4 separate regions of the Homo sapiens genome follow, and regions 1, 3 and 4 are each linked to region 2. Evidence: fine-mapped expression QTL. A gene starts in region 2. Each other region holds a variant in brackets. All regions are shown on one strand. Distances are from middle to middle. Region 1 overlaps CLYBL (citramalyl-CoA lyase). Region 2 holds the start of CLYBL (citramalyl-CoA lyase). Region 3 overlaps CLYBL (citramalyl-CoA lyase). Region 4 overlaps CLYBL-AS3 (CLYBL antisense RNA 3).

Region 1 (2,687 bases), 270 kb before region 2:
TCATTGGTTTCTGCTTATCCTCAAGAAAAGACATACATTGGAACTACCCAAATCCAGATTTTGATTGTGACTGAGTGCATTTAAGGCTCTATCTCGTTTTGGTCATGAGTGTGGGTATTCACTGTAATATTCAACTGAAGACACATTTATGATATTCCATATCTTTACTTACAAACTAAGCCCTGAATTCTGCTCGCAGCCCTCTCTCCACCTTGGCTGTGAGTGATACTGGGCAGCTTCTGAAGCCTTGCTGGGTTTCTGTGCATTAAGTCATAAACTGAAGGCATCTGACTAAAAGATTTCTGAGATTTCATCCAGCTAAAATAATGACATATTTAAAATCAAAATTGAGCAAATAAAACCCGGAAAAATATGAACCTGGATAAAGAATATTTTGATTAAAATATCCTTAAGAGTGTGTTATAAATTAAGGACAAAGCAAACAATTTAAAACATTGTCCGATTTAATCTACATTAAAAACACTCTTTTTTTTTTTTTTTTTTTTTGAGACGGAGTCTTGTTCTGTCACCCAGGCTGGATTGCAGTGGTGTGATCTTGGCTCACTGCAACCTTTGCCTCCCAGGTTCAAGTGATTCTCCTGCCTCAGCCTCTCAAGTAGCTGGGATTACAGTCACCCGCTACCACACCCAGCTGATTTTTTGTATTTTTGGTAGAGACGGGGTTTTACTATGTTGGCAAGGCTGGTCTCAAACTCCTGACCTTGTGATCTGCCCACCTCGGCCTCTCAAAGTGCTGGGATTACAGGTGTGAACCACTGCACCCGGCCTATTAAAAACACTCTTATCTTCTAATACCAAACCAGCCATTTGCCACTAAAAAAAAAAAAAAAAAAAAAAGTGAAATAGAATATGATATGATTTCAATACTTTGTAGCAATTCATTACTTTGCTTTAAATGTTTAAAATTTCGCAATTTTGTGTTAATCCATCCAATCTTAAAGTCATCATTGGCAGACTCAGATTTTCTAAGAACTGGACTTTTAAAAATCAAAATTATGGCCGATCTTTCTGAAAATGTTAAATGAGCAGGGAAATAAAGAGAAAAGTGCAATTACTAAGAATCTCTAAAACAGAGTTATGTCCCTTTATCTTTCATTTTCACTACAAACCTCTCAGCTCTGATTTTCGTGTTCCTGCTCATAAATCCAGAGGGAAGGCTGTGGGTCGTGGGCTGGATGGGTGTGGGAGGATACACTGTTGTCTAATAGTGGAATCAACCCTTTCAGTTGACAAAGACAACAACCACGTCTTTAGATGGTTTATTTGATCTGCGTGAAAGAGTGGCAGTGGGATTTCTGGCACTTGAATAAGCGGAAACAATATTTTTGGCTAGAGAAACTTCTCCTGAGTTCTCTCAGGGAGGCTTCTAGAAGGCCATCTGGACCAAGCAATATTTCTTTTGTAAAGCCTTGCATTTGGAAACAGAAATGAAAGGTGTGCGAGCAGCAATC[A/G]GACACCTATGAAAATGATGGGCTTTCAATATTTTGGGAGGAGGGATGTATTACTGTTTGTAAAGTTTCTAGATGAAGAGACTTACATAAGGAAAAAAACTCTTACTTTCCTTTTTCTTTCTTTATTAAGAGATGTTTCCAGTTTATATTCCAGCAGAAGATGTGCTTACTAATGTGAACTTATCAGCTTGCACTGTTTTTCTCTCCTGAGTGAAATGAGAATGTTGGTTGCGTGATGCTTACAGTTGTTAGGCCAGGTAGTGATCTTGTTTCTGACATTTGTAATTGTTAATTGAACCTAGAATTTAAAGATGAATACTTCCCCTTCCTCAGTCTTTAGCCAACTTGTGAAGCTATAACGAAGGAGAAATATTGAAAAAGCCAAACAAAATCCTTCCAAAACCAAACAAAGCACGTACAGCCATGATATGAATCAAAGAGAATGTCTGGAAAACTGAAAATGAAGCAAAGCCATATTTGTAGCCAGATACTGCAAAATATGAATATTCTAGCAGAGTATCTTTAAAATTTTGACACACGTAATATATTGTGCTATTCCTTCGCATTCTTCTGTTAGAGTCTCCATTTGGAAAGAAATAGTAAATTCCTATATTAACATTTCCTGTGATTAGTGACTGTTTTAAAAAAGCAACTGACTGTTTCCTTTAGCTGTCATTTTTGCCTAAGAGTGATGAATATGGAAAGATAAAAACTTTAGCACTAAGCTCATAATATAGATTTGAGGAAATACACGTTATCATACATACTTGAATGTTTATATGTTGTATAAACATGTATGCTATATGTGTTTATATAAAATTATTTCTATTGATATCAATATTAGATGATTATTTGCTTGAGATGTTTTCAAGTATCCAATTTTTACAGTATATAAAATTCTTTATTGATAAAAAAGAACTGTTGAAATCCTATTACTTTAATAAGCATATTAAATTCAGTTCTGAATGAAGAATTTTCAAATATTAATGGAATCACCATTATTATAAAAAAAGACATAAAAATGGAATTAACTTTTAAGAAAATCCTTTATAAATTTAAAACAAATCATGTGGAAATGATTTATCCTGCCTAAAGCATTTTACCAAATAATTTGAAACTAAAATAATTAATGGTATGCACGTTGTATCTCAAAAAACATTTTTCTGGAAGGATGGAAGAAAGTCAGTTTGATTAATATTGTGGATGGAAACCTTA
Region 2 (2,687 bases):
GTGGCGGACGCCCTGTAATCCCAACTACTCCGGAGGCTGCGGCAGGAGAATCACTTGAATCCGGGAGGCGGAGGTTGCAGTCAGCTGAGATGGCGCCATTGCACTCCAGCCTGGGCGACAAAAGCGAAACTCCATCTCGGAAAAAAAAAAAAAAAAAAAAAAAAAGAAGTTCCAGACCACCAGGCCGGCCATGGTGGCTCACGCCTGTAATCCCAGCACTTTGGGAGGCTGATCCGGGTGGACCCCCTTGAGGTCAGGAGTTCGAGAACAGCCTGGCCAACATGGCGAAACTCTGTCTCTACTAAAAATACAAAAATTAGCCAGGGGTGGTGGTGCACACCTGTAATGCCAGCCACTCAGGAGGCTGAGGCATGAGAATCGCTTGAACCCAGGAGGTGGAGGTTGCAGTAAGCCGAGATTACACCACTGTACTACAGCCTAGGTGACAGACCGAGACTCTGTCTCAAAAAATAAAAATAAATAAATAAAGAAGTTCCAGACCAGGAGCCATACACTTAGTGTTTGAACCAAACTCTCTCATTACTGGTCATAGGGCTTTGAGAATCCTTAACCTTTCTGACCCTGTTTTTTCATCTTTATAAACATGACACCCAACTTCTTCACATGGTGGTCAAGGGAACCAAATGAGACCATGTATGTGCACGTACCTAGGCGATGGGCAAGTGCTAGACCAGCGGTTCTCAAAGTGTGGTCCAAAGACACCTGAGGGGGTCCCTGAGACCCGTTGAGAGGGTCTGCTTGGTCCTCCCTTTCCCAACTAATATCTGCATCTGCATGAGCCCAGAATTTCTTTCAAATATTTCCTTCAAAACAGCTGATATGAGACTCCAGCTGTCCTTTATTAAACCAAAGAAATTTTCAAAAATATAAAAACCATGAGCCAATCTTCTCACTTTTTTTTTGAGAAGTTATGCATTAAAGTGTTATTTGTATTAAAAGTTAATGGGTTTGTTATTAAGTGAATATTTTTTAAATTTCTGGTTTAATTCCTCATGCACAAAAATCAATAGATATAAGCAAAAGCTTTGGGGGGTCCTCAAATTATTTTTAGACGTGTAAACGGGTCCTGAGACCAAACCGTTTGGGAACCGCTGTGTTAAACGAACCGCAGGTGTTCTTCACCAGGCAAGCCGCCTCTCAAAGACTGGCGCGTTCACGTTTGCCATTTGGGGGAGGCAGGCAGTTTTGTTTCCTGGGGCTGAGTCCAGGTAATTCGACCTAAGGTGTGTACCCATTTTCCGGGTGCAACGAGGGCCCTCCCAAAGGGAGGCGCGGGCGGCAGCGACCTTGGACGAGGTCGAGCCAGCGCGTGGGAGGCGCATGGTGCTTCCGTCCGGCTGGGTTCCCGTGAGGGCTTGGGGAGGCCGCGCCCGGCCCGCGGGGCTGCAACAGGAGCCGACCCGCGGCGAGCCGGGCCGGGAAGGCGGGGAACGGGGACCTGCACTCACAGCCTCAGCAGCGCCGCCGCCGCAGCTCCGCGCGCCGCCCTCCGCAGCAGACGTAGCGCCATCTTCCCGACGCGCGCGCCCCGCCCTTTGCCTTTAGCCACGCCCACCCCACATTCCACGCCCCCACGGCGACACCGACCCCCCCCCCGTCCCAGGCCCCGCCTCGCTCTGTCTTCGCCCCGCCCCGTCCCGCCAGCCACACCCCGCCAGCCACGCCCTCCTTCCTCCCAGCACCCGCTCCGCCCCGCGGCGAGTCCCGAGGTCAACTGCCCTCCCGGCCAGGGCTTAGGACCTTCGTCCCCGCTGTCATGGGGGACAGAGCAGAGGATCTGAATGGTTGGGGCCTCTTTGAGGGGCCTCTCTGGTGACCGAATCCAACTCTCTGAGCTTCTGAGTTTTTGAGGCAACTGTTGACAGACTGCGTTTTCCCAGCCAGAAGAGCCAACATTTCTAGGGATTTCTTCGCAGCTTTTGTTGTTAAAATACCGCCTAATACTTTGTGAGCCCCATCATGTGCATATCTTGGTTAGCAATTAATCTAGAGTGGTCAAAGTGCAGGAAGGCTGCATCCTGGAACACACATGCCTGCAATAGGTCAGAGCAGCTGTTGGCACTCTCTGGGCAGGGAAACTGACAGCAGCTCTTTACTCTGCCCCCTGCAGCCGTTCTGCAGCGGTGAGAACGCCGAGGCGTTAAAACAGGCTGGGCCCTGCCCCTGCCTCTTCTTTCACCTTCCCTGATCCAGCCGGCCTCCACCTGCCGACCTTCACCTACCCGGGCCCATGTTACCCCTTAACCATGTCTTTTCCTTGGCACTCGGCATGTTTCTTTTTCAGCTGTGACTCCGTTCCATTCATGCTCTAGACTTAAACCTGAAACCGTTTCTCAGAACCTTCCAGTGGAAGCTGACTTGTGCTCTTGGATGCAAAAAGTGGCCGTTTAAACAAACAAAAGCCTTTTCAGCCAGAGGGGGTTCCAAGATTTGGAAAAGTCCAGGTGACTGGGAACATGGATGCTAAACTTCTGCTGAGCCTAAGAATTATTGTTATATTCGATACCAACAGGGGAGACTGCTCAACCCCTTGGTGCCCTCCCCCAGCTCCCACGCCTGCTCCACCTCAGGCCTCGCCTGTCTACTCCAATTTGGTCACTTTCTTGTCACCACCTTAGTCCCAGCCAGTGCCCGGTCCAGCCATACTGAAGCCTGAGGCAAAGGCA
Region 3 (2,687 bases), 260 kb before region 2:
GAACCGGTGGGGACACTGTTGATTAATTTCAGACATTGTAAGTGCTTCTAAGTACATTATGGAATAAAATGGCGAAGCAGTGCTTAAAATTAAATCACTGGATGAATCTGGTTGCATCTTAGGGATATGCTTTTGATTATATTCTCAGGATTCTGGGGCTGGCTGGAAGAATGTATGGTTAGTTGTGTAAACAAGCTGCTCACAGGACAAGGTTTGAAGCAGGTCCCCAAACATTTGCACTCGACCCCTTCTGCACATCCCAAGGCCTCAAAGTTGCCGCTCACACATTCTCTCTCCAGTACAGTTCGACTATGTTTTTTCTGTTGTTTTTAGTGATTTCTTTTCTCCTGCCCTCTGTGGGGGCTGGGGTGGGGGAAGGGAATCTAGGAACTCTGAAAGGGGGTGCTAGATTGATGTTCGCAGGTCAGGTGGAATGAGAGGCATATTTTGGAAAATAATATAAATGCCCCCTGATAAACGAGAAAAAACGAGCTAGCTCTGAATTTGTTAAGACCGGTAGTTTAGTGCAACCACACAACGGCTGAAAACACTTGGCTCAGCCAATATTCCCGCATGTATATTAGAAGATATTCTAATGTGGCAAACTGAAAAACTGTACTGCAAATTATTTGTGTGCATGAACTTACAAACAATAATCTTCTCTGCTAGACATTACTGATAATGTTGCTACAGAGAGGGCAGAACATTTCCCACTGAAAAGACATTTGATAGAAAAGAACATTTCAAAGTTAATTCATAAGGGTGACAAATTTTCATGTACATTTAGTCTATAAATGCAATAATTCAAAGCATATAATTACACAGTGATTAGTTAAAATTGTTACTAGGAATATACAAATGCTTCATTTAAATATTTTGGACTGGGAAGCTTTTCCTTCTACCTAACTGATTTCATTGTTTTCTAAGATGCTGGCAACCTGGTTTTTGGACTATTACAGATAACAAATGGTGCTCAACATTTCCTTTGCTTATAAATCTTTCTAGAAACACATTTTAAGAAGATGTTAAAATTGAAAGCAAAAGTTCTCTTTAGGTGATAAATAAAATGCTAACTTATTAACCGTATTATGGCTTCCTTACCTTAAAATTGAGCAAACCCATTGCAGTTTCCACAAAAGGGATTAAATTCATTGGTTGTTCAAGTTTTCGGCCTTTTAAGTGGAATGAAAATTTGTCTGCAAACTAAAATCAGAAGTGTCATAGGTGATTAGTGGGGAAAAAATGTACAATCACGGAAATGTAGACCCAGAAGTAGTATTTAAGTC[T/AAGTCT]TTGACCTGAGGAAGTAATATCCAAGCCTCTTTCGTCCACACAAAAGAATTTTTTTAAAAAAATAAGAAGAAAGTCCAAAGAAAAAGGTAATGAAGTTCCCACCAAACTAAATAGTAAAATCCTAAGCATTACAATTTTTTTCTCCCAAAGGAGCAACTTGAGGCCTAGGAGTTAGAACTGGAAGGAGAGAGTATAAACGCTTTCCCTGAAAACGCATTTACTTAAGACCTCTTGCCCTCGCTTCGTTAAATGCAAATGGTAGGCCCTTAAAACAATGAACTCTTCCTCTACCTGCCATTCTGTTTTTGTTTCGTGCCCAGCACTGACATCAGTGCAACTGTTCAGCAGCCTTCTACGTGGAGTCCATATTATTCATTATAGCACCATTACCCTTTGTTCAGAAGGTTTTTCTTCATAATTTTTTAGCTTACCTAGGAAGACCTTAAAAAGGAAGTTTAATTCTTTGAAGACCAAAGCTCGCCAATTTTTTCCATGAGACCAGTTCACAGCTAGCTCTGTGCTGCCAGTGGGGTAGCCCAAATTCCAAAATCTATCATCTGGAAACATACAAAAGCTCTTGCCCAGATTCCTCCCCCTCTTCAAAAGGGGGAAAAAAACACACTCTAAATTGTAAATCTATTATGTCTATCTAGATCTAATAAGATGTGGGGAGATAGATAGAGAAGAAACACAGGTATGATAAAGGTATTTTTGTAAATAAAGATGAAAACATATATATCCATTTTAAATTTAAGGAATATTCAGCCATTAATAGATATCAAAGGAAAAGGGAATTTTAATCATCTCTCCATTCAGTCTCAGTTGGGTAAATCATATCTAAGAGATTTGCATAAATATAAACCATCAAAGACTTTTCATCTTCAAAGGGGGTTTCAAGACCCTATAAGCTTTGTACTGTAATCATCACAGGTCACCACCCTGCAGGAATAAGGCTGCTATGGCAACATAAAAAAACTAATGCTTAAGGCTTAGCATAATATTCTGACTAATAGAAAGGAAACTCATTTGAAAAGCTGGCAGCCTATTTACCAGAAGCGGGATTAGAGGTGTTATTTCCCCTTCTAGCTGCCCCCTCCTTGCCGGTGCACCACCCCCCTAAAAAATCTAATCACTGGGATCTTTAAAAAGCTTTTGAGCAATTTGCAGTAACTTTACAATTAGGCTAAAATAAATCACAGCTTTCAGTAATGAAGAATTATTCCCAGTTGCTCCCACTGCCCCCCCTTCAAAGGGCATCATCATCACCTCCTTAGTAACTTTTCAAGGGAAGGAATAACTCAACCAAAATAGCAAGAAGGAGCAGGGGGTGACAATTTAAGGGGATAAAATGTATAGTATTTGATGTAGATGAAAATAAAATATAATTTATTTCTCATTTA
Region 4 (2,687 bases), 300 kb before region 2:
CCGGGCACGGTGGCTCACGCCTGTAAGCCCAGCACTTTGGGAGGCTGAGGAGGGTGGATCACCTGAGGTCAGGAGCTCGAGACCAGCCTGGCCAACATGGAGAAACCCCATTTCTACTAAAAATACAAAAATTAGCTGGGTGTGGTGGCAGGCACCTGTAATCCCAGCTACTCAGGAGGCTGAGACAGGAGAATTGCTTGAACCCGGGAGGCGGAGGTGGTATTGAGCCGAGATCGCGCCACTGGGTGACCGAGCAAGACTTTGTCTCAAAAAAGAAAAAAAAAAGAAAACTCAAAAAAGCTCTGGGGGTCCTTCAGTTCCCATTCAAATTCTGATTTTCACTCACACTTATTTTCCTCATATCTGATTATTCTTATGTAAAACAACAATAAAATGAAATCTTAACAGACATTTTTCTGATTTGAAAACTTTTAAATGTCCATTTTAGAAAATAGGGAAACTCCAAAATCCCCTGTAGTGACATTTACTTATTTTATTGTTTATTTTATTTCTTGATGATCACAGTGACAGGTGCTCATTGTAGTCCATTTGGAATGTACAGGAAAGTATAAAAGGAACAAAGTGAAATAACCAAATGGAGGCAAACTTCTCAGCATTTTCCCTTTTGCCATTAAACATGTTGAATCTGGCAGAGTGTCATGGCTCATGCCTGTAATCCTAGCACTTTGGGAGGCTGAGGCAGGTGGATCACTTGAGCCCAGGAGTTCAAGAACAGACTGGGCAACATGGTGAGACCCCGTTTCTACAAAAAATACAAAAATCATCTGGGAGTGGTGGCACAGGCCTGTAGTTCCTGCTACTTGGGTGGGGTCCTGGCTGAGGTGGGAGGATGGCTTGAGCAGGGGAGGTCGAGGCTGCAGTGAGCCGAGATCGTGCAGCTGTACTCCAGTCTGGGCGACAGACAGAGACCCTGTCTCAAAAACAACCACAACCACCACCACAACAACAACAAAACATGTTTGATCTAAAAAAAAAAAAGCAAAAACAACAACCAAAAAACACTTTTTTATGGCTGCATGAAAATTTCCATCTAAGGTACTTTTAGATTTCTTCCCCCTTTTCTTTCTTTTTTTGGTCTCACACCTGGAGCTCGGTTCTTGGCTGACTTGCAAGTTTGCTTTGAAGGATAATGAAGAATAATTGGAACAGAATGGAGGTGGGGGAGGGTGGACAGAATAAGAAAGGGCTCCACTGCCCCCAGCTTTCACTTCCTAGAACAGGGCCAGAAGGGCCCTAGGGCGGCTTCAAGACACCCTTTTGGCCAGTCACTAACACAGTGATGTCATGTCACTCACCAC[A/G]GGCACGTAACAGAAGCTCAGTAAATGTGTGCTGGAGGGCAGATCAATGGACGGATTTGACACAGGTCGCCATGTATGAACTTTACCCTCTTGTTGTAACTCTACAGTAATGGTCATTGCAGCTCAGCATTCCCTTTATTAAAAAAAAAGAAAAACAGGTATGCATCTGTGATCCTAGGTCCTGGCCTTATTAAGATCCTAGAGGAGTGACCAACCAGAGGTCTTTTAGCCCAAGGCAGATAGTTGTGATCAAAGCTTTCTGGATCTCTCCCAGGAGGTCCTCGGCTGGAGAGAATGGCCTAGGACCAGACCCTCCAGTGTGAAGCACCCCCTTTCCCTCTGAGACCTGTGAGCAGGCCAGCCCTGTGGGGAAAGAGGCAAAGGAGGCAGATGTGGGGGAGCAGAAAAGGTGGGGGAGGTGTACTGTTCTGGGGGAGGCAGGGTGGGAAAAGCTGTCTCTGCAAAGATGGCTCAAAGCCCGCTGAGCTCCCAGTTGAGCTTCTTACAAGAGGGAGGCTGCCCTTTCAGGGCCTCTTTTGCTCTCTTGAGACCCCCAGGGAGGGCAGCTACGCTCACCTCTGCCTTGCGGGGCTGTGGGACTCACTTGGCTGAGCTGTTACTTGACGTCTTTGCCTTCATTTTCATAAAAACTGTACAGTTTTGAGCTGACACTGGGAAAAATACTGCTTTTTACTTATATGCTTTAAGTATATATGAGAAAAATTAAATTATGGAATATTAGTTTGAAGCACGACGCTGCCATTTTAGAGGCCACACATTTCTTTTAGGTGACATTTATAGGACAGCCATCCATACACGTGTGGCTGATTTCGAAAATTATAGCATGAGACATTTCAACATGATGGCTATTTCAGCCTCTTCTGCAATCATTCAGGGATGTGAATGTGTATAAAATTAGAAATTAGGTCATGTGTGAGGAATCAATCAACTCTTCCTTATCAAATCAATTCATGAGACCCAAACATAATTATGGAAACTGGTTTGAACTTTGCTTTTTAAAGTTTAGCATAGCCAGGAATTCCCAAATCATGTTACAATGTTGTCCCTTTGACTGCAAATGGAAGGGGCCACATTTCGCCTTTCGAGGTCTGGGAGTTCTGTCTGGCTGTTTCTCTTTTTAATCTGCAAAATGAGGGGTTAGACTAGAGTCTGATTGAATTAGTTTGGGGTGGGGCCCAGATATTAGTATTTACTAAAAGCCCAAGAAATAATTCTAATATCAGCCAAGATCCAGTCCATTGGCTTAGGTGACCTCTAAGTCCTTCTTTGGCAACAAAATGCTGTGCTTTTTATAATTAAAAAGGTGTGGGGTTTTTTTGTTTTTGTTTTTTTTTTTAAGAGAGGGGT

Evidence for each region. PIP is the estimated chance that this variant, and not a neighbour inherited with it, causes the effect.
Region 1: its variant is fine-mapped to the expression of CLYBL in lung (TOPMed, PIP 0.91).
Region 3: its variant is fine-mapped to the expression of CLYBL in monocytes (CEDAR, PIP 0.95).
Region 4: its variant is fine-mapped to the expression of CLYBL in whole blood (TOPMed, PIP 0.95).

Annotation. Positions count from the first base shown.
Region 1 is chr13:99,874,241-99,876,927 of GRCh38, reverse strand. All of the region lies in intron 7 of CLYBL (citramalyl-CoA lyase), which reads right to left. The region is part of intron 1 of CLYBL-AS3 (CLYBL antisense RNA 3); the gene reads left to right. Among named protein-coding and RNA genes, the nearest start is that of CLYBL-AS3, 82 kb to the left of the region's middle. The variant A/G (reference allele first, on the strand shown) is at 1,473.
Region 2 is chr13:99,605,540-99,608,226 of GRCh38, reverse strand. CLYBL (citramalyl-CoA lyase) reads right to left here and starts at 1,537. Exons shown (of 9, transcript NM_206808.5): 1 at 1,470-1,537. The coding sequence starts at 1,531. LOC105370332 (a long non-coding RNA gene) reads left to right here and starts at 2,378. Exons shown (of 3, transcript XR_931674.3): 1 at 2,378-2,465. RefSeq lists a silencer at 1,197-1,756 and enhancers at 1,478-1,772, 1,695-2,674.
Region 3 is chr13:99,861,507-99,864,193 of GRCh38, reverse strand. It overlaps CLYBL (citramalyl-CoA lyase), which reads right to left. Exons shown (of 9, transcript NM_206808.5): 4 at 1,102-1,203. The region is part of intron 1 of CLYBL-AS3 (CLYBL antisense RNA 3); the gene reads left to right. Among named protein-coding and RNA genes, the nearest start is that of CLYBL-AS3, 94 kb to the left of the region's middle. The variant T/AAGTCT (reference allele first, on the strand shown) is at 1,287.
Region 4 is chr13:99,904,035-99,906,721 of GRCh38, reverse strand. The region is part of intron 1 of CLYBL-AS3 (CLYBL antisense RNA 3); the gene reads left to right. It also overlaps a transcript of CLYBL not described here. Among named protein-coding and RNA genes, the nearest start is that of CLYBL-AS3, 52 kb to the left of the region's middle. RefSeq lists an enhancer at 1,774-2,274. The variant A/G (reference allele first, on the strand shown) is at 1,320.